Linked DNA regions of Homo sapiens. The protein of the gene in region 1 interacts with the protein of each later gene in a pairwise test. Each region holds a gene or a part of one and is shown in the gene's direction. Other genes may lie near its edges. The genes, in order: TMEM144, TIMMDC1 and HERPUD2.

Region 1 (8,881 bases):
AGTGAAACCTCATCTCTACAAAAAATTAAAAATTAGCTTGTTGTGGTGGCACATGCCTGCAGTCCCAGCTACTCAACAGACTGAGGTGGGAGGATCACTTGAGCTCAGGAGTTCACGACTGCAGTGTGCCATGACTGTGCCACTGTACTCCAGCCTGGGTGATAGAGTGAGACCCTGTTTCAAAGGTTAAAAAAAAAAAAAGGAAAGAAAAGAAAAATATAACTTTCTCCATTCCTTTTGTGTCTTTATAATTAACATGGATTTCTGGTAAACAACGTAGAGTTGATGCCTGTATTTTATTCAATCAGTCGTTGTCTTTTAATTGGTAGACCATTTATATTTAGTGATACTTGATAGAGTTGGATTAATATTTCCCATATATTAATTGTTTTCTGTTTGTTGCCCTTGTAATTATTTCCCTTTTTTGTCCTCCCCTCTTCATATGGTTTGGCTCTGTGCCCCTACCCAAATCTCACGTGGAATTGTAATCCCCATAATCCCCACCTGTTGAGAGAGGGACTTGGTGGGAGGTGATTGGGTCATGTGGGTGGTTTTCCCCATGCTGTTCTCGTGATAGTGAGTGAGTTCTCACAAGATCCCATGGTTTTATAAGGGGCTCTTCCCGCTTTGCTTCCTCTCACCTGCTGCCATGTACAACATGCCTTTGCTTCTCCTTCGCCTTCTGCCATGATTCTAAGCTTCCTGAGGCCTCCCCAGCCATGCAGAACTGTGAGTCAAACCTCTTTCCTTTATAAATTACCCAGCCTCAGGTAGTATCTTTATAGTAGTCTGCAAATAGACTAATATACCTCTTTTGCTCCCTTTTCTAGTTTTAATTGAGCATTTTATATGATTCTATTTTCTCTCCTCTCTTAGCATATCAATTATACTTAAAAATATGTTTTTAGAAATTGTCCTAGAGTTTGCAGTACACATTTACAACTAAGTCCACTTTTCAATAACACTATACCATTTCACAGGTAGTGCAGGTACTGTATAAAAGATTATTCCCAGTGCCTCTCTCCTGTTCCTTAAAGCATTGCTGTCATTTATTTCATTTATTCATAAACTAATATCACCCAATATATTACTGATATTATTATTTTGAAGTTATCTATGCGATCAATTAAGAATAAGAAACAAATTATAGGTTGGTGGATTTTTCTTTCAACACTCTAAATATTTCACTCTACTCTCTTTTTCCTTGCATGGTGTCTGAGAAGTCTGATTAATTCTCATCCTTGTTCCTTATAAGTAAGGTGATAGTTTTTCCTCTGACTCCTTTCAATATTTTCTCTTTATTTTCCACAATTTGTATACAATATGCCTACATGTAGTTTTTTTAAAATTTATCTTGCTTGGTGTTATCTGATCTTCCTGGATCTGTGGTTTGATGTCTGTTATTAATTTTAGAAAGTTGTCCACCATTATTAGATACCTAGATAACTATTATTTATGTATCTTCTGCTGCTTTCTTTCTTTTCCTTCTGGTATTGCTATTACCTGTATTTTATGCCTTTTGTAATTTTCATACAGTTCTTGGAAATTGTGTTTCTTTTTCCTATTCTGTTTTCTGTTTCCATTTAAGTTTGGGAAGTTTCAACTGACATACCTTCAAGCTCACTGATTCTTTTGCAGCTATCAAAAGTGATTCTCTTTTCTATTGTAGTATTTTTTGTTCTCTAACATTTCCTTTTGATTCTTTGAGTTTTCATCTTTCTGTTTATTCGTTCTTGCACTTTTCCCAGTTGATCTCTTAGCATATTAGTCATAGCATATTTTAAATTTCCAGTCTCATAATTCCCAAATCCCTGCCATATCTGAATCTGGTTCTGAGGCTTGCTTTGACATTTCAGAGCTGTGTTTTTTCTTGCCTTTTAGCATGCCTTATAATTGTTCATTGAAAGTGAGGCATGATGTATCAGATAATAGAAAACAAGATAAGTAGACCTTTAGTTTTTATGTGTATTGGGCCAGAAGTTAGACTGTGCTTAATGGTTGTTGTAGCTGTAAGTATCAGAGGCTTCTATTTTCTCTAATATCTTTCTTTTTGTCTCCCCTATTTGTTGTCTTTGGGTTTTCCTAGAGACTCATTTTTAAGCAGAGTCTGTGTCTTGCAACTCTCTCTAGTTGTGATCCACAGTTATTATACCAAAACACTATTTATGTGGTCGTAAGATATTGGAGAGTTGATACATTCTATAATGTTATGATAAAATCTCTATTTTTAAATTCTTATTTCTTTTTAAACAATTTTAGATTCAGGAGGCACATGTGCAGGTTTCCTACATGGATAGATTCTGTAATGGTGAGGTTTGGGCTTCTAGTAAACCCATCACCCAAATAGTAAACATTACAGCCAATAGATAATTTTCAATCTGCTCTCCTCTCCCACGTTTCCCTGTTTTGGAGTCCCTAGCATCTATTATTTTACCTTTATGTCCATGTGTACCCATTGTTTAGCTCCCACTTATAAGTGAGAACATGCAGTACTTGATTTTCTGTCTGAGTTATTTCACTTAGGATAATGGCCTCTAGCTCCATTCATGTTGCTGCAAAGGACATGATTTCACTCCTTTTTATGGCTGCGTAATATTCCATAGTTTATATATACCACATCTTCTTTATCCAATCAACTACTGATGGACACTTAGGATGATTCCTAATTGTGAATAGTACCCCAATAAATATATGAGTGCCAGTGTCATTGATTATAACAATTTCTTTTCCTTCAAGTAGATACCCAATAGTGGGATTGCTGGGCCAAATGGTACTTCTATTTTCAGTTATTTGAGAAATCCCCATACTGTTTTCCGTAGGGGTTTTACTAGTTTACATTGTCATTAACAGTATATACGCATTCCCTTTTCTCTGTATCTTTGCCAACATCTAAAACTCTGTTTTCTAGTTGTCCAGAATCCCTGAGCTGTGAACTTCATAAGGGTTTCTTCTTTTGTTTTTCTCCTTATGTGAGAAAGAAAGTGTAGAAGGTGTTCAAACTGTCTAGTTGCCTTTTCTCTAATTCAGATAAAGCTCTGGGGTAAAGTTTACCTTGAGGACAGGCTTTTGTTTCTGAGTATATTTCAAATAGTTATTGTTTTCCTCCCACATGCCAGAAAAAAGAGGAAACTTTTGTCCTGTCTTCTGAAAGTAAAACTCATTAATGTGTGGATGCTCCCATATGAATGACTCCCACTGTCTCTGAGTTTTCAACTCTCAAGTTAGTCCACACTCAGCCTTCAGCAATAGGCCAAATACTGTATAAATGCCCCCCTATCCTTTACTGGCTCCAGTGGCTTTTGCTGTCCTGATAAGCTGTAATTCTCCGTATTCACCTATTTCTTCAGTTTGCAAAGAGGTGGCATGTCCTATGACATCAATTCTCTGCAGATCTAAAAAGAGTAGTTGATTTTTGATTTGCTCATTTTTTTCTTGTTGTGATGATGGAAGTGGAGACTTTCACACCTTTCAAATGTCAGAGCAGAAACCAGAAGTCCTAGTAATAATGTTATATATATATATATATATATATATATATATATATATATATATATATATATATCTCTTTTGACCACATAAAAGGGGGAGGTGCACAGGTCTTATTATTATCATTTTACATATAAGAAAACTAAGGTTTAAAGAGATTAAATGAGTTTCCATGAGAAATATTGCTAACAGACGAAGCTAAAGTCAGAACCTGGATCTTCTAGTGTCTGCCAGGACTCTCCCAATACAGACCATTCTGTTTAGGCATTCATGTATACGAAACAATTTGAAAGAAAAATTTTAGTTTAAGAATAGAGTCATGCATGTTTGGATTTGCTCTGTGGCATAATGTAAAAGGCAATGGCCTAGCATATCCCTAATGAATCTTCTCAGGCCTAATTCAGCCCCCAACTCACTTTTAGACTTTAGAAATTCTCAGCAAATGCTGACACAAGCTTCAGTTTCTCCATGTGAGTGAAGCAAGAATAAACCACATGATCTTGTGACCATGAAGTGAAACAATTCTAGGTTGGATTTAGGCCCTATATTTTTGGAAGCAAGTTTGTGTATGTGTGTGTGTCTTAGGTGTGCATGTGTGGAAAGGGGAACTGATTTCTTCAAAATCTTTCTGAACTGCTAAATTAATCCTCTTCCTTAAGTGAAAAAGCTTTGCTGCTTTAATTCTTTAAATGAAATGTTATTTTGCCTTCCCATCTGCTCATCTGACATGATAGTCTATGGATGTGATTAATGTTTAAGGCAGAACTTCCTTCTAGGAAATGTCATATTTTAACAGTCCTTGTGTTTTCTCCTTCCTGTGAATGCTACACCCATTACCAACCACTGGATGGTCTCGGGTTAAATAGCACTTCCTCAGAGAAGGCTTCTTTGAACTCAGACTAGCACAGAACCTACACTTCCCCTTTCCAACTTAAAGTTTGCATCCTTTGGTGTATGCGAACCCACATGAAGAGATGTTTTTTTTGTTTTGTTTTTTTTTTGAGAGGACTCCCTCACTTTGGGAGGGCGAGGCGGGCGGATCACCTGAGGTCAGGAGATCGAGACCATCCTGGCTAACACGGTGAAACCCCGTCTCTACTAAAAATACAAAAAAATTAGCCAGGTGTGGTGGTGGGTGCCTGTAGTCCCAGCTACTCAGGAGGCTGAGGCAGGAGAATCGCTTGAACCCAGGAGGCGGAGGTTGCAGGGAGCCGAGATTGCACCACTGCACTCCAGCTTGGACGAGAGCGAGACTCCGTCTTAAAAAAAAAAAATACAGATAAATGGCCTGTACAGATAAATGGCTTAGGTGCATCTACAAAGAATTAGTGATTACAAGTGAAATCTTGTAATGTCACAAGAAATGTTAATGACGTCAGTGGTGCAGATGAATTTCTTAATACCAAGTGGAAAAATTCACTTGAGATAATCTTTTACAATGGTGTGAAATTCCTCAGACTTTTGTTTTATCCATAAACTGCACAAATAATACCTCCCTCTGTGACACTTAGAGAGGGTGACATGCTGAGAGTTTCCTGAATAATCACCTCTTGAAATACACAAAACTCTTCTAGTTTCCTGGTTGACCGACCCAGGGCTTGACGACTCCTTTTGAGCCACCTGACAATTCAGTCCAGCACAGCAACTGAAGGAAGGCGTTCCCCAACCTGCTGTCCTATGAAGGCCTCTAGGTCACCGGTGCTAAAGCCCTCCTTTCTCCACCCTCCTTAAGTGGAGGTAAACGTCCCAGCAGGAAGTCAAGGCTGGATTGGCGCTCTTCGCGAGCACCCTGGGAACGGGAGTCTGGGTCACGGGTGCTAGAGCCCTCCCCTCTCCTCCCGGCCGGTGTATGGGAAATTGTCCCCGCAGAAAGTAAAGGCTGGCCAGGCCGCCCCCAGCACGTAGAGGGAATGAGTCAGGCTCCGGCTCCACACTGGCACGTAGTGGGCGGATCGCGCCGGCGCTGAGTAGGAAGGAGCTTCAGCCGCCAGCCCGGAACGCAGTGAGTACAGCCACTCAAAGGAAAGCCAAGTCGCTTTGCAGGGGAGCGTCTCATGATTTTTCAGAAACGTGCTCATGGTTAAAAAGAAAAATCAAGGCTCGGAATAAATACATTCAAGCACTGTTAATTTTAGCCCAAAGACAGGCGGTACTTGCCTGGAGATTTGGGAAAATCAACATGAAACTAAAAATGAAATTTTAGTTGGAGTGGAGCAAGCAGTATTGATCAGAACATACCAAATACGAATTTTTTCAAAGTCTGCGTAGAAGTTTAAATTACTAGGAAAAATGTAAAGGAGAAGTATTTACTAATAAATGAAACAAAAGTAATAAAATAAAAATGAATTAATATAGTTTGACAAAATATCAGCGAACGCTGAAAAGAAAACATTAAAATAATGTTTGAGACTTTTTAGGTTTTGTGCAGGAAGAATTGGGAAAAATGTGCTGGATGGAGTGATACTGCTTTTCTTTTCCACAAAAATTTCATTATTTTAGAGAGCGGTAGAGCCTTTTTAAAGACAGTAAGTTATTGCCAATTCACAATGAAATAAGATCACATGCTCTGAAATGTACAAGAGCTGCATGCAATAAACTTCATTTATCTATAGGTAATAACTGATTGATGTTTATTCAGTAGTCGAAATGCACCTCATGCACTCTAATTAGCACGTCAAATTAGTCTCTCCGTTTCAGAGGTGTAGGGCCTTTGTGGAGCCTTCTCAATAAAATAATTTGCCACTCTTGAAGGTTAGACATTCTCTTCTATCAATGTACACATAAAGGTTTTGTTTTGCTTTGCTTGTTGTGAATTAAAATGGGGAGAAAATGATGTGTTAGCTATCACCCAGTCATGTGTCTTTTTAGTCATAGGTTAGCTTTTCAAGACACTTCCTGCATCTCTGACCTGTTGCACCTCTGTTATCTTGGCACCTCTGTTATCTTAGCAGCAAGCACCTGCCTCAGCTGACCCTTGAGCCATAACCCATGTAAGTCACTGCAGGGCTGAACCTCTCTTTGAGCCTAACAGTAGAATAATAATTATTTTTATTGAATAGTGTTAATGTGTCAATGTTGAAATGTGCCTCAGTGTGTCTTCCTCAACCACATCCCTATAGAGGATGTTTTCTTAATAGCAATGTGTTTTTGTTTTAAGAAAGTCCACACAATTTCAAATACACATTTTCTTTACTAAAGTTTATTGACCAGTTTTGAAGTGATCCTTGTTTTCAGTTAAACTATCTTTAATAATGGTAAATAACATATTTTGTAGGTTGTTGTATATTTAATATTCTCTGCAAGAACACATAAGGAACAATACATGGACCTTTAAATATTTGTCATTGTGAAATAAAATAACAAGGAAAGGTGATTTCAGGTGTACTTTATTCAATACATATATACAAGAAGTTATTACTATAACATTAAATTTGCAGGAAAAAAGAAACCACTGGATTATTCTGCTTCTATTCCAGAGGGCTTATTCCAAAGGGCCAGTGTGCAAAATATGAATCCAAGATGGCATTGTGGAAAGACGCTGTACCTCCTGTGATAAAATTACTTTGGTGGTGCTTTTTTCTCATGTATCTCGGGAAACTAAAAATCTGAATTGTATTCAGTGGCCTTTTCCAAATGGTAACTTTATGAAAAAATGTCTAATTCTTGGTTATTTGTGGTTTTAGTCCTTTCTTCATAGAGAAGCTAAAGCTGTTAAATAAGCTTAGCAGCGTTATCCGCTAAAACTTTCTGCAGTGATGGAACCTACACAGGAGAATTTTTTTTGTAATGTACTAAAAATTTGTCTTCAGGGCTTGTTCTTTTTAAATTGTAGGCTAGTGATCAAAAATATTTGGTGATAGAATAAATTAACATGAAGTACAAACATTATATATAGTTGTGTAATATCCTATCTGCAAAAAGGAGTCTTAGCGTGCTTTTGAAAAATTCAATAAATATAATATGTTAATCACAATTTGGTCACAGATTCACGTCTCAATTGTTTCATTTTTTCTTTTATTTCAGAAGCTCCTGAAAAGTACATCAAGTCTAAAGTGAACCAGCTAACTCATTAAGACTGGAATCATGAGCAACAATGGAGCAGACCTAACCTTTGGTTACATCTCCTGTTTTGTAGCTATCCTTTTGTTTGGCTCAAATTTTGTGCCACTTAAAAAATTTGATACTGGTGATGGTAATTATTTTTCCTTGATTGTTAACGTTATATTATTTTTAAAAATGAAGTTCCTTTTTTGGTCTTTTAAAAGTATAGCTACAAAAATAAATCATGTTGATCTTGATACCTAGTGAATAGAGCTTAAAATTAGTCATTTGACAGTGCTCATACCAGTTTGTCTGAAAGTCAGAATAGGAGAACCATTAAGGTTGTTTCATGGTAAAGTTAGGGAGGGTACAGTCAGGAAATCTCTTGGGCCATTATATGAATGGAAGAAATTTATAGTCAGTTCTACTATAACACCTGTTTTGAAAACATGAATCTTCAACATGATTGATATATTAGAGAACAATGTAAGCATAACAGATTTTTGGCTTGCTTATGTGCAATTTTGTCCCTGAGAAACCTCTAGATAGGCACAGAAGACTGCACCTAGATGAATAAAGATGTGTGATAATACACATAATGCACGCAGACACACGTACAATCTTCAAATATCGACCAGCTCCCTTAGTTCATCACATGTGGTTATGATGTATTCCACCCAACCACATCTCCTGTCCCAACTCCTCACCCAATACCTTCACAGTAACTCGTAAGCTGCAACCCTTTGGATGCTCACTTCCAGGAGCAAACTTCTGGTGTTTTTCAATTAAAATGCCCTATTTATTACAGCATCATGTAATTAACCAGTTAACCAGTTAAAACTGTACTACTATTTTAATTAGGTTGAGTGTTGTTCTCCTAGCCCCATTTTCCCATTATGCTCTGTAGTTTTTACTGCATGATTTTGCATAGTGCAGTGATTTCAAGGAATGCACATGTTACATTATAGCAGAACTGACTAATGTGAATTTTGGGGAAGGAGAAGCAAGAGTTATTTGTATTTGCCTGACTTCCATATTAAAGCCAGGAGAAGGAATTGAGATTTATGGTGAACACATGTTGGGAATTACTTCCTTGGTAGTATTTATCACCTGACAGCAGTTGTGTTATTTCCCCAATTCTTTGTCTTCGTGCACTTAGAAAATAGGATTACCTCCTATTTTCCTCCAGGGCCTTTCTTCTCTTTTCCTCTGGAGTTAGGACAAGAATGGGAACTACCCGAAGAACAAAAAAATGGGTAGAGGATCTAGCTTTTTTAGTCTTCCACAATTAGCTTTGTGATCCTGGGCAAATATTACCAGCTCTGCTGTTTTCAGTTTCTCATTTGTAAAGTGA
Region 2 (4,481 bases), on another chromosome or scaffold:
AAACTCACAGCTAATATCATACTGAACAGGGAAAAGTGAAAAGCTTTTCCCTCAAAGAACTGGAATGAAATAGGAATGCCCACTCTTACCAGTCTTGTTCAACATAGTATTAGAAATCCTAGCCAGAGCAGTTAGGCAAGAAAAAGAAATAAAGGGCATTGGAGGCCAGGCACGGTGGCTCACACTTGTAATTCCAGGACTTTGGGAGGCCGAGGCAGGCGGATCACTTGAGGTCAGGAGTTCGAGACCAGCCTGACCGACATGGTGAAACCCCATTTCTACTAAAAATACAAAAATTGTCATGGTGCACACCTGTAATCCCAACTGCGTGGGAGGCTGAGGCAGGAGGATTGTTTGAGCCTGGGAGGTGGAGGTTGCAATGAACCAAGATGGTGCCACTGCACTCCAGCCTGAGTGACAGCATGAGACAAAAGAAAATTAGGCACAGTAGTGCATGCCTATAGCCCCAGTTACTTGGGAGACTGAGGCTGAAGGATCCCTTGAGCCCAGTAATTCAAGGCAGCAGTGAGCCATGATTGTGCTACTGCACTCCAGCCTGGGCAACAAAGTGAGTCCCTGTCTCTTTAAAAAAAAAAAAGTGGGCGGGGGAGCTTGGGGGGAAACTTGTATTTCTCAAAAAATACCTACAAGTGCTAACAAGTATATGAAAAAGTATTCAACATAACTAATCAGGGAAATGCAAATCAAAACCACAATGAAATGTGGTTTGGGGACAGTTTGGGAAATTGGAGTGATATTTATCCCAATTAGAATGTCTATTATCAGAAAGACAAAAAATAAATTTTGGCAAGGATGTAGAAAGAAAAGGGAACTCATATACTTTTGGTAGGAATGCAAATTATTACAGCCTTTATAGAAACAGTATGGAAGTTCCTCAGAAAACTAAAAATAGAACTACTGTAAGATCCAGCAATCTTCCCTACTAGGTATTTATCCAAAGGAAAAGAAACCAGCATATCAAAGAGTTATCTGCGCCCCCATGCTTATTGTAGCACTATTAATAGCCAAGGTATGGAATCAACGTCAGTGTCCATCAACAGATGGATGGATAAAGAAAATGTGGTATATATCCACCATAGAATACTATTCAGCCATAATAAAGAATGTAATCCTGTCATTTGTGGGAACATGGATGAGCCTGGAGGACATTGTTATGTAAAATAAGTCATACACAGAAAGATAAATACTGCATGTTCTGTTGCTCATGTGGGAGCTAAAAAATGGGCTCATAGAAGTAAAGAGTAGAATTATGGTTACTGGAGGCTGAGGAGGGGACAGGGAAAGGCATAAGAAGAGGAGATTTAAGGGATTGATTAATGAATACAAAATTATAACTAGATCGGAGGCATAAATTCTAGTGTTCTGTGGCACTGTAGGATGACTATAGTTAATAATTTATTGTATATTTTCAAGTAGCTGGAAGAGAGGATATTTGAATGGTCCCAGCAGTATGAAATGATAAATGTTTGAGGTGATGCATATGCTAATTACCCTGATTTGATCATTACACATTGTATATGTACAAAAATATCACTTTGTACTTCATAAATATGTACAATTATTAGTATCAATTTTAAGACAGATGGATAAAAACAACTTGAATCATAGTAATGAAAGAATACTTTGGCAGAATGAAAGTGTCAAAATTGTATAGCATATACACGTATGGGTGTTTGTGTGTGTGTGTGTGTGTGTGTGTGTGTGTGAGATATTTCTAAGGAGAGTTAATAAACGTTTAAGTGTCTTGTATGTGCCTACTTCTTCGCTTGAAAATAATACAGGAAAATCAAACAAATTGAGAGTCAAAAAAATTGCCTCAATGAGCAGAAAATGTAGAAAACTGACTATAGAGATATAGAAGAACAAATGACCAAATCTGTGAAGAGTTGAGAAGAAACTTTAATCCCGATAATCACTTAAGGAAGACACTAATACTTGATTTAGAAACAGAACTGATCTATTATTTGGAAATTAGTTTTTAACTCTTCATAAATATAAATCTATAGTTTTGTTCTATCTGACTTTTCTCTACCTTGGATTACCATTGTTATAGCCTTTGACCAGTTCCTAAAAGGTCTGGTCACAGAGTTTAAGAGTGGCAGGGTACTTACATTCCCCCAGCCCTGGGAGCAAGAGGACAGCGAGACTTCAAGCCTTCACACCTTAGCACAAAGTGTGTCAGTTCCCACACATCACTCCTGTGAGAACTCTAGGACCCAGCATACTAGGAATATCTTATGGATCAGAGCTGTCACCACAACGGTATCCATTATGGTAATGTGGAAATCATAATTGGCTTGTGAGGTTAGGAGAGAGAAGAAAGTTACTGTATTTGAAGTTCAGGGAGCAGTATTTGCTTCTAAATTGCTATACCAAAGCAGGGAGGAAAAGACAAATGCTATCCTTTTTGTTTTAAATCTGTAAGAACTAAAGAAATGGAGCAGTATTTGATTTATCCTTTTTATCTGATTACAGGAAAGGCAGACTACAAGTTACTGAGCACCTCCCTGAGAAAATTGAAAGTAGTTTACAGGAAGATGAACCTGAGAATGATGCTAAGAAAATTGAAGCACTGCTAAACCTTCCTAGAAACCCTTCAGTAATAGATAAACAAGACAAGGACTGAAAGTGCTCTGAACTTGAAACTCACTGGAGAGCTGAAGGGAGCTGCCATGTCCGATGAATGCCAACAGACAGGCCACTCTTTGGTCAGCCTGCTGACAAATTTAAGTGCTGGTACCTGTGGTGGCAGTGGCTTGCTCTTGTCTTTTTCTTTTCTTTTTAACTAAGAATGGGGCTGTTGTACTCTCACTTTACTTATCCTTAAATTTAAATACATACTTATGTTTGTATTAATCTATCAATATATGCATACATGAATATATCCACCCACCTAGATTTTAAGCAGTAAATAAAACATTTCGCAAAAGATTAAAGTTGAATTTTACAGTTCGTATATTCATGTGGTCCTTTGAAAGGGTATTCTAGAAATCACTGGAAAGAGGAGAGGAAAGAACCAGGTAGGCAAATGGTCTGTGAAACCCTTGGGTCCTGGAAGCAGTGTGAGTGTAAATGTGTAGTGTTTGGTTTCATCTAAATAAACAAAGATGATTTCTTTGACACTTGAAATAAAATACAAATTCAACAAAAAGTAGATCAGCATTATTAAAGAAACGGTTCAACTTTGTTTCTTCCCTTAGTATTGCTGACAAAGTATCTGCTGTAGAATACAGGAATTACTTAGAATAGAAACATAGTCATCACAACTGTTACTAAATGGAAAAGAAAAGAATTATTGAGTTAAGTATTCCTGTCAATACGGGAAACACTGCTAGTACCTTATGTTGGTGTTAGACCTCTCTGCCCTACACTGAGAATATAGTTTTACACAGGAGCAAGGTTTGTGAAGCAGCATAGTGAGGTAGCTAAAGCCATGGGCTGGCTCTAAAGGCTTTAAATCCCAGCCATGTGGCTTAGCTGCCATGAGATGTGCATTTGAGAAATGTTGTCTTCTTTTGCTGTTCAACTCCAGATTTTCAGATGATAATGTGATTATCCCAGCTTAAGTTGCGTCCACTTCTGGTCTAGTGAATTGTGGAAGGCAGTTTTAGAGAAAGGAGTCATGAGTAACATGAACAGCAGTTGGCTATGTCTTTCCAGTTCTCTGCTGATGTCAGAAAGACCCAGAAATACCAAGGAGAAAAAGCCATCTTAGGGATCTAAGGAGGCCCTATGGAAAGTTACTACCTTAGACATTTGAAGATAGCTTACTGCTTAGTACATACACTGTAAACAACGATCTCATTTTAAATGAGAACTTTCTCATAAATATTTTACAAATGAGGTCAAACTAGCATAAAGCCATTTAAAGAGATTATCAGTCCAATATGAACCAGTTAAGTCTTTGGACTATCCCTTTCCTCCTTGACTACTGCTTTGACGTACCTAAATCATTCGTCTTACATGTCAGAGGAAATTAGTTTTGGATAGTTCTCCTTTCTGCTGTACCTCATGGGGGAGTGAGAGAGCAGCAATAGAGAACACAATGAAAAAAATGGAATACTGGGTAAACACCAATAATATTTCCATTAGTCTCCTAAAGATGTTCATGCCATACTTCCTATGCATTACATTGGGCTTTTGTAAACAGCAGCATAAAATCTTCTACTCTGACATTAGGAAATCAGATAGTCTCTGAAGTTGACCTGTTATTGGACAAATTCTACTTCCAGCAGCACTTTGCCTGACATATATATGTATATACCAGTTAACAGGCCACAGTCAAACTGATAAAGGGAAAGAGCACCAGAGTTAGGAAATCTGGGTTCTGGCGCTGGCCTTTATAATTCGGGTCACCTCCCTGGGCCTCAGTGCCTTTGTCATTAATAACACTGGTATTCTCTAAAGTCCCTTCCAGAACTCAAGAATTCTGCATTTCAAAACACCTTGATCAAGGTCAC
Region 3 (8,710 bases), on another chromosome or scaffold:
CTGAATGAATCAATTTTTTTTTTTTTTACTGTTTTTCCCCAAGATGGAGGTCTCACTCTGTCACTCAAGCTGGAGTACAGTGGTGTGATCTTGGCTCACTGCAACCTCTGCCTCCCGGGTTCAAGCGATTCTCCTGCCTCAGCTTCCTGAATAGCTGGGACTACAGGTGCGTGCCACCATGTCCAGCTAATTTTTGTATTTTTAGTAGAGACGGGGTTTCATCATGTTGGCCAGGCTGGTCTCAACCTCCTGACCTCAAGTGACCCGCTCGCCTCGGTCTCCCAAAGTGCTGGGATTACAGGTGTGAGCCACCGCCCCAGCCACAATATGTGTTTTCTAGCTGTTCTCTTTTACACCTCAAAGAAGAAGTGGAAGTAAACAAACATCCCATTAATTCACAGAAAACCATTATTTACAAATAAGTTTCTTCAAATTTATATTTTATTTGTTAACAAAGAGAGCTACCCAACAGTCAGAAATCACTGAATTGCTAAACTCACTTATTGTGTACTGAATAGTTAATATCGCTAAAGCAGAAATTATACTTATTTTTTAATTTTTAATTTCCATAGTTTTTTGGGGAACAGGTGGTATTTAGTTACATAAGTTCTTTGGCGATTTTTAAGATTTTGGTGCACCCATCACCCGAGCAGTATATACTGAACCCAATTTGTAGTCTTTTATCCCTTACGCCCTTCTCACCCTTTCCCTGAAAGTCCCCAAAGTCCATTGTATCATTCTTATGCCTTTGCATCCTCATAGCTTAGGGACATATGAGAACATATGATGTTTAGTTTTCCATTCCTCAGTTGAAGTAGAAGTATTATATTTATTATTAATGATCATGACTCTTTTATTATCTATTACCATATTATATTACCATGGTACTCTTGAGAGTTCTCATTACGGGCTTTTTTTTTTTGAGACTGAGTCTCACTCTGTCGACCAGGCTGGAGTGCAGTGGCACAATCTCAGCTCACTGCAACCTCTGCTGCCAGAGTTCAAGCAATTCTCCTGCCTTAGCCTCCCTAGTGGCTGGGATTACAGGCATGCACCACCACACCTAGCTAATTTTTTGTATTTTTAGTAGAGATGGGGTTTCACCATGTTGGCCAGGCTGGTCTTGAATTCCTGACCTCAGGTGATCCACCTGCCTCAGCCTCCCAAAGTGTTGGGATTACAGGTGTGAGCCATCGCACCCAGCTGGGGCTATCTTTAGTAGCAGATGGTAACTGAGCTGGGCAATTGTTCTTTGACATTTCCAGTTCTTATCTGTTAACATGGACAGTGATTTAAATAGGCAGCTGCATGGACGGCCTCTCCCTAACTGCTGCTATCTTGTATCTCCTCATTGGTAATTATTTTTCCTAGCCCAAATTCCACGTCAAACACTATCAATATTCTGGGGACCACCCTTTCATACACTGCTCTGTACACATACCTGTTTATACATATTTTAACAAAAGTGGAATATTTACATACTGTTGTTATCATAGCCAAGCTCAACAGCATCAAAAGCATTTTTAGGTACTTAATTCAAGTGGCTGTAAAATTTAAAAAAAATCATTTTTTCTGATACTATATCATCTTTGTACCCGTATATTTCAATTTCTTGAATGTTCATTACAATTTTATTTTTACTTTTTATTCTTTCTTGAGACAGAGTCTCACTCTATCACCCAGGCTGGAGTGCATGGTATGGTCTCAGCTCACTGCAACCTCTACCTTCTGGGTTCAAGCAATCCTCCCACCTCAGCCTTCAGAGTAGCTGGGAACACAGGCGTGCACCACCACGCCCGGCTTATTTTTGAATTTTTTTGTAGAGACGGGGTTTCTCCGTGTTGCCCAGTCTGGTCTTAAAGTCCTGAGCTCAAGCAATCTGCCTGCCTCGGCCTCCTGAAGTGCTGGGATTAGAGGCAAGCCACTGCGCCCAGCCTTTATTACAATTTTAAATGTTTTTCTCTGTGTTAGCGAACCTTTGATGGACTGTTTTAAAGAGTGTTAAAGAGTGTTTAAATCACTGTGAAATGCACATTCTGTCTTAATATTTATAATTATTAGGGTACCTTCATTAATAGTGTACATTGCATAGTGCCAAACGAGATCACCACATCACTTCTAAAGGATTCCTGGAAGTCTGAGTCACAAGCATGAGACAACAGCTGCAGGACTGGGTGGTGAAGGTTGTGAAAACTTCCTGGCTTAAACAGGAATTTGACCCAAAACAAGAAGTCTTAGGGAAGATAGCTTAGGGCTTGTCTGGTGGCACCACAATGCCATCAAATGCCCAGCCTCTTTACAGTTTTCTGCTCTGCCATCCTTGGAATGCAGGCCATTGTTCTCCTGTTTGTTGTTTCATGACTGAACTATGAGTGCTGTAGCTCTTCACGTTCCTCCTGGAAGACAGGTGTAGGGCAAAGATGAGCTCTGATTCGCAGAGCCCTTCCATCTATATGCTTTCTTAGAAGCCTCAGCAATAAGTTCAACATTCAACTCATTGGCTTGAAGTGTGTCAAATGGCTGCCCCTTGCTTCAAAGGAGTCTGAGAAAATAACTTTAGCTAGAATTAAAGTTCCATTAGAGTGCCTGGGTAGACAAAGAAGAGTCAGCTACAGAAGGCCAGTATCATAGCAAGTTGTTGCTCCATGACTGGAAACAAAGAAGACTTCACTCTTTACTTCAGATGCGCAGTTGATAGAGTACAGCTAAGATATGGTACGTGTTCTACCATGAAGAGCAAGAGCAAGGTGAGGGAGGGTACGGTGTAAGAGATCCTGCTGCATTAGCTGTTGAGAGGAAGAATTTCCTCCTGGTCACTATGTTACTGGGGGTCCTTGCTCCCCAAGTTCCCAAGATGGTGGCAGGTCGCTTCCAAGATGGTGACGGGCCACTTCCGAGATGGTGGCAAGTCTTGTGTTCTCTGACCTGGGGTTCTTGGCCTCATGGATTCCAAGGAATGGAATCTTGGGCCAAGCGGCGAGTGTTATAGCTCTATTAGAAGCTGTGGGTCATGGAAGAGAATCGTGGAACCCAGTGACTAGTGTTTAGCTAGATTAGGACGAACCTGGGCACTTAGCCCTGCAGGAACAAGGGCAAGCCTTTAGCCCGATCAGGAGCAGCAATGGGCGCCTCGCTGGATCCAGAGGGATGGAAGTCAGCTGTGGGTCTGTGACAGCGGCAGACAGCAGTGGTGGACGGTGAGCGAAAGCTCAGCTTGAGCTGTGACACACACGTACCAGAAAAGTGTGCAATTGCAAGATTTAATAGAGTGAAAACAGAGCTTCCATACAAAGGGAGGGGACCCAAAGAGGGTAGCCACCGCTGGCTTGAATGCCTGGGTTTATATCCTGATCATTGTCCCTCCTGTTGTGCTCTCAGGCGATAGATGATTGGCTACTTCTTTACCTCCTGTTTTTCCCTAATTAGCATTTTAGTGAGCTCTCTTTACTACCTGATTGGTCGGGTGTGAGCTAAATTGCAAGCCCCGTGTTTAAAGGTGGACGTGGTCAATTTCCCAGCTAGGCTTAGGGATTCTTAGCCAGCCTAGGAAATCCAACTAGTCCTGTCTCTCAGTACCCCCTCTCAACAGGAAAACCCAAGTGCTATTGGGGAGGTTTGACCACCGCTCTAACTGCTTCCTGCTGAATTGGGGCACAGTAGGGGTTGTGCAGTTGAGATTTCCTCCGTAGGGGTGCCTTGTCTCTCAACTAATTCAGTGGTGGCTACCTCGAAGCCCTTCTGAAGCTAAGAGGGAAAGAGACCAGCTCGCAAAGTCCCCTATGTTATCTACTCCTAAGTGGAAGCTGGGAGCTGTGAAAATGCACATCTAACAACCCTTAACTTACTATACCGACTTCTAAACCACAGTAGAAAATGAAGAAAAGTTCGGCTATGGGCAATAGACTCAACCTTTTGTTCTATGTCTAACCTATAAAATAGAAAAATAATACTGTCATCCCTCATCTCCCACCATACTGAACACGCATTAGGTGCTCAATGAATACTTGTCCATTTTAGTGAAGATTAAGAGGAATGAGACGGAAACTGACACTTGAGAGGCTGGCACACGCCAGAACTGCACCACACTTTGCACTCATAGCTCATTTACTCATCAGCTTGTGGTCAGGTAGGCATTACCGTCCCCATTAGAGAAGTCAACGGAGGCTCAGCAAGGACGGCCAGGGTCCCCCAGAAAGTAGAGGAGGACTTCAGGTTTAACCAAAAGCCTGTACTCTTTACACATGTACCCCATGCCTTCTCCACCAAAGCTCCTGGCACCGTGCTTTGCAGACAGACGACGCTCAACACATTTTGAGCAGAAGCGTGGTTCAGCACCAGGAAGGACACCAACTTTTGCAGAGACGACTCTTGGGATGGAGAAAGACTTCCCAAATCTTCAGGGTGCGGTCAAGACAGGGTAGGCTAGCGCCAGGGGAGCTAGTGGCTAGGCCCCAGGGCAGCTGGGGCCGAGGCCGAGCAAACGGCCAGGGGAGAGGCTCCCAGGAGCCCGATCTGCCGCTGGGCGACGCGAAGCCTGGCGGCTAGAGTCCCGGGCAGCCCGAGCACGGCGGGAAGGCGGCAGCAACAGGATCGGCAGGGATGGCGGGGACGGGGGAGGTCCATGTGCAGGGGCGTGCCGCCGGTGACGCACTTCCGCCCTGCCTGTTCCGGCTTAAAGGGGCCCCAGACAATCCTCGCAATAACAACAAAACCGGCGCGCCAGCGGTGGCGCAACGGCTCTCGTCCCCGCCCTCCTGCTACCTGTAGTCGCCTGGGCCGCCCCCGGCCCAGCCCTGCCTTGCCGCCACCCTGCGCTGTCCAGACTGAGGGGTCAGGCGGAGAGCCGGGCCGCGCCTTCGGTCAGCTTCTCTCCCTTTCACCCGCGCCTCCTCGCGAGACCCGGGGCTGGGCCGTGCCGGTCGCCGCGCAGCAGGAAGGGAGCGGCTGCCACGGAAAACGCCTGGCCGGACGGTGTGGCTGGCGGCCCTGCCTGGGCGCGGAGGGCGGCGGTGGCGGGCCCCGCGGCCTTCTCTCAGGTACCCCAGTGCCCGCTGACCGCCCTGAGCGGCCCAGCTGCTTCCCCGATCCGCACCGCGGGGCCGTGGCGTAGGGGCCTTGTTGCGTTCCAGCTTGGGGGTCGCGGTGGGGCGGGGCAGTGACCCCGGGCCGGCCGTTGTGCCCTCATCCCTCCCACCCTTCCTTCGTATAGCTTCCTTTCTCCTCACGACGGCCTCCACAGTCCGGAGCCCGGCGGAGCCCGGACCTGGCGGGGAGAGCTGCCTCCACGGCCGGGCACCCAGACCCCACCGTCGCAGTCGCCACCACCTCAGTCCATCCTTGGTACCGGCAATGGGCTTCGTATCCTCCAGTGCACTTGTAACTGACTTGGACACGGAATACTAAGAACTCACTTCTGTCCTCATCCCAGTCGCGCCGGCGGTGACCATCTCGGCTCTTTTGGGCTTAACTGCCGCTCCTCTGGACTCTGTCTGACTTTGGGGGCACCATGGACCAAAGTGGGATGGAGATTCCTGTGACCCTCATCATTAAAGCACCGAATCAGAAATACAGTGACCAGACTATTAGCTGCTTCTTGAACTGGACCGTGGGGAAACTAAAAACGCATCTATCTAACGTTTACCCTAGCAAACCAGTAAGTGTGTAAAAGCTGGGGGCAGCTGCTCTGACCAGCAGCTTTTCGTGCCGTGTACCCTCCTTTTTCCTGCTTCTCCCCTCCAGTCTTGAATCAAATAGGTCTCTTTTGGTAGACCGCGAGGTATTTTGAGTTCTGAGGTTGTGTCTCCTGAGTGTTCGAACCATCATTAATATTTTCCTGATGAGGTTCAGTTAATTAGTAAGAGGAAGCAGAAATATCAAGGGACTTAAGAATTGGCAGGCAAAGACCGGGCGCGGTGGCTCACACCTGTAATCCCAGCACTTTGGGAGGCCAAGGCGGGCGGATCACGAGGTCAGGAGTTCGAGACCAGCCTTACCAACATGGTGAAACCCTATGTCTACTGAAAATACAAAAATTAGCTGGGCGTGGTGGCGCATGCTTGTAATCCCAGCTACTCAGGAGGCTGAGGCAGGAGAATCGCTTGAACCCGGGAGGCGGAGGTTGCAGTGAGCCAAGATCGCACCACTGCCCTCCAGCCTGAGTGGCACAGTGAGACTCTGTCTCAAAGAATTGGCAGGCATGGAAAAGGGACTACTTTCTTTGGACTTAAAGTCATCAACCTAATATGCGAGTGAGAGATATATCCTTTCTTAAAAAAAAAAAAGATAAAGCACTACAACCCGTATCAGAGCTTTTATTGCTTATTACACTAAAATTCCATTTTACTTTCAACACTTGGCCCAGAAACTTAAACAGAAATTGAAGATTTTTTTTTCTTAGAAATAAGTATGTGTCCCCTATAAAAATTATACTTTCAAGGTTACTATATATGTTTCAAGGACCAAAGAATTATAAGTTGTAGATTCGTTTTCACCACAACCCCTTTCAACATTTTTCTCCTGTAGAGGATACATGGACATTAGTTTAAAAGAGAACTGCCCTCCACCCCACCACCATTTGGTGCATCCCTCTCATATGGCTTTTCCATTCTGTGTTCCATTCTGAATCATAACTGGATATTGCAGAGATAATAAATAAAATATAGACAGTACAGCTCCATCTGTCCCCAAAGTCAGATTTGAAAGGCCGTGGTTGGTAATCAAGGAGTCTTGGAATAGTTTAGAAAAGAAGTATACCGTCATGTAGAGTACTGTATATGAAAGTGAGGCTTTCGCATTCTCCACTGTATACATTTTTTATTCTTGAATAAGTAGTGTTTAATTACTAAAACTTTTGTTTAATAAAGAGGGTCGGATTTTAGGGTGGGAAATAACTTTTGGCATCAGGTACATTTAAGCATGGATCTGTTGGAAGGCAACTATGCTTTCTACACTTAACACTTGTTTTATGCACCTAAGTTAAGGAAGACACTTGATCTATATTACGATATTAATGAATTATGAGCATTTCAGTGTTGTAGTATTAAGTTTAGTTAGGCTTTTAGACTTGCAGAAGAACCACAGAAATAGGACGGTTATTGCAAAAACAGGAGGTTTAGAAAAACAACTCTTAATCGGCATTAGCTGTGTTTATCAGTACTTTGTGATACAAATATTTTTAGTAGGAGGGAAAAAAAACCCTGAGGAATTTAAGTACTTAAACTAGTTAGAGCCCCTGTTTATTCACATCTTTTGTTTGAAAGTTAAGATTTACACAGGGAGTAAGAATCTGTTTGAAAATACCTTGATTACAAAAGATTTCCTGTTGCATATGATTAGTTTCACACATTTTTGAAGTGGAAAATAGGTTTTTAGGATAGTCAATTGAAAGTCATAGACTTCCATAATACTGTTCATAGCAAATATATGCTCTGGTATGTACGTAGGCGAGATCTTTACATTGTACTATTAAACCAAAAGGGACCTAGTCTGCAGTTTATAGACTTTTTTCTAAAGCTTTTTTAAAAAAAAGTACCTGAGACGGGAGTGGGAAGCCTGTCTGCCTTATCTACCCATGAAGAGGCCTGCTTTTGGCAGGAGGTCTGCCTGTGCAGCACTGATCACTAGTGGAGGATGTCAGTGCCGCTGTGCATTAGTTAGCTGTCTGAGGATGAGATCTGTTACAGAACTCCTTCCCAAACTGCCTGCCTCCTGTAGCCACACTGGAGACACTTTTGGAGGCTAAACCAAATACTATGCAGCCTATTAATGATTAACATGGCAAACCTTTTTTTCTCCTTTGACAAGTTTTCTTTAAGTGAATTGTAATGTCTGACTTTCATTTCTAGGTTGAGTGGGTGGAGCTCTGGAGCGGTGGGGGTATGTGTGTTTATCGTCATAGAATTTCACTGAAAACTTTGTATAGTTACTAGATTTAGTAAGTTTACATTCTTATCACGTGAGAATTGATTTGAAGCATCACAGTTGTTGAGCAGCAGTTTAATGGTATCGCAAAGCCATAGGTAGTCCTCAGCATAGGAGTTGGAGTCCTAAAAGTTTACTTTGTAAGGTCATTATTTAGAATTCAGCACAGTTTGCTATTAAGTAATATTATAAAGGAAGTTTAGGTTTTTCTGACCGCCTGCAATGACTAAACATTGATTCTGTGTTTTAGTTTTCAAGTGCTGTTATGTTTAACAGAGATAATTTCTTGTGCATCTTCCTTGCACATATGCCTACTTTCATTATCAGTGTGTGGACTTAGCAGAGTAGGGCTCCAGTGCTTTGTAGGAACAGGAGTGCCCCAGTAAGTAAAAAGTTGATGGCTCTCATCAACATTGCTCTAATTGGATCTGATGGGTCAGGAGTAGGTGGAGGGACTTTGTTCCTGTGGGCAGTGGCTTCTAGGAAAATAAATTGGTGCTGCTAGAGGGGAAAGAATGGAAATTTGAGATTGTCCTTTTAGGATCCTACAAAGATAGGTCATATGTCTATATGCTGTTAATGGAATTCTGGCTGAACTCTATGAAGTTGTAAAATCTTGGGATCCTAGCTTCATGGTCAGATATTGATTTGACTAATCACAGTCTCCATATGGGTATATTAAATTCACTTCTCCCTCCCCTAGCAAACTTAGAACAAATGTACCCCTCCCCCTCAAAGCACATTTTTTTGGGTCTTCATTTATTTATATAACTAGGATTTTATTGGCCTA

The links.
Region 2: the proteins of TMEM144 (region 1) and TIMMDC1 interact in binary tests that used the Homo sapiens proteins (3 or more experiments, as listed by UniProt).
Region 3: the proteins of TMEM144 (region 1) and HERPUD2 interact in binary tests that used the Homo sapiens proteins (3 or more experiments, as listed by UniProt).

Annotation. Positions count from the first base shown.
Region 1 is NC_000004.12:158,205,099-158,213,979, forward strand, and holds the start of TMEM144 (transmembrane protein 144), read left to right. Parts: upstream 1-5,387; 5' UTR 5,388-5,488; intron 5,489-6,354; 5' UTR 6,355-6,476; intron 6,477-6,962; exon of another isoform or gene 6,963-7,122; intron 7,123-7,509; 5' UTR 7,510-7,569; coding exon 7,570-7,678; intron 7,679-8,881.
Region 2 is NC_000003.12:119,521,110-119,525,590, forward strand, and holds the end of TIMMDC1 (complex I assembly factor TIMMDC1, mitochondrial isoform 1 precursor), read left to right. Parts: intron 1-2,496; coding exon 2,497-2,647; 3' UTR 2,648-3,981; downstream 3,982-4,481.
Region 3 is NC_000007.14:35,691,127-35,699,836, reverse strand, and holds the start of HERPUD2 (homocysteine-responsive endoplasmic reticulum-resident ubiquitin-like domain member 2 protein), read left to right. Parts: upstream 1-4,701; 5' UTR 4,702-5,036; exon of another isoform or gene 5,037-5,209; 5' UTR 5,210-5,506; coding exon 5,507-5,653; intron 5,654-8,710. UniProt on the Homo sapiens protein: Could be involved in the unfolded protein response (UPR) pathway.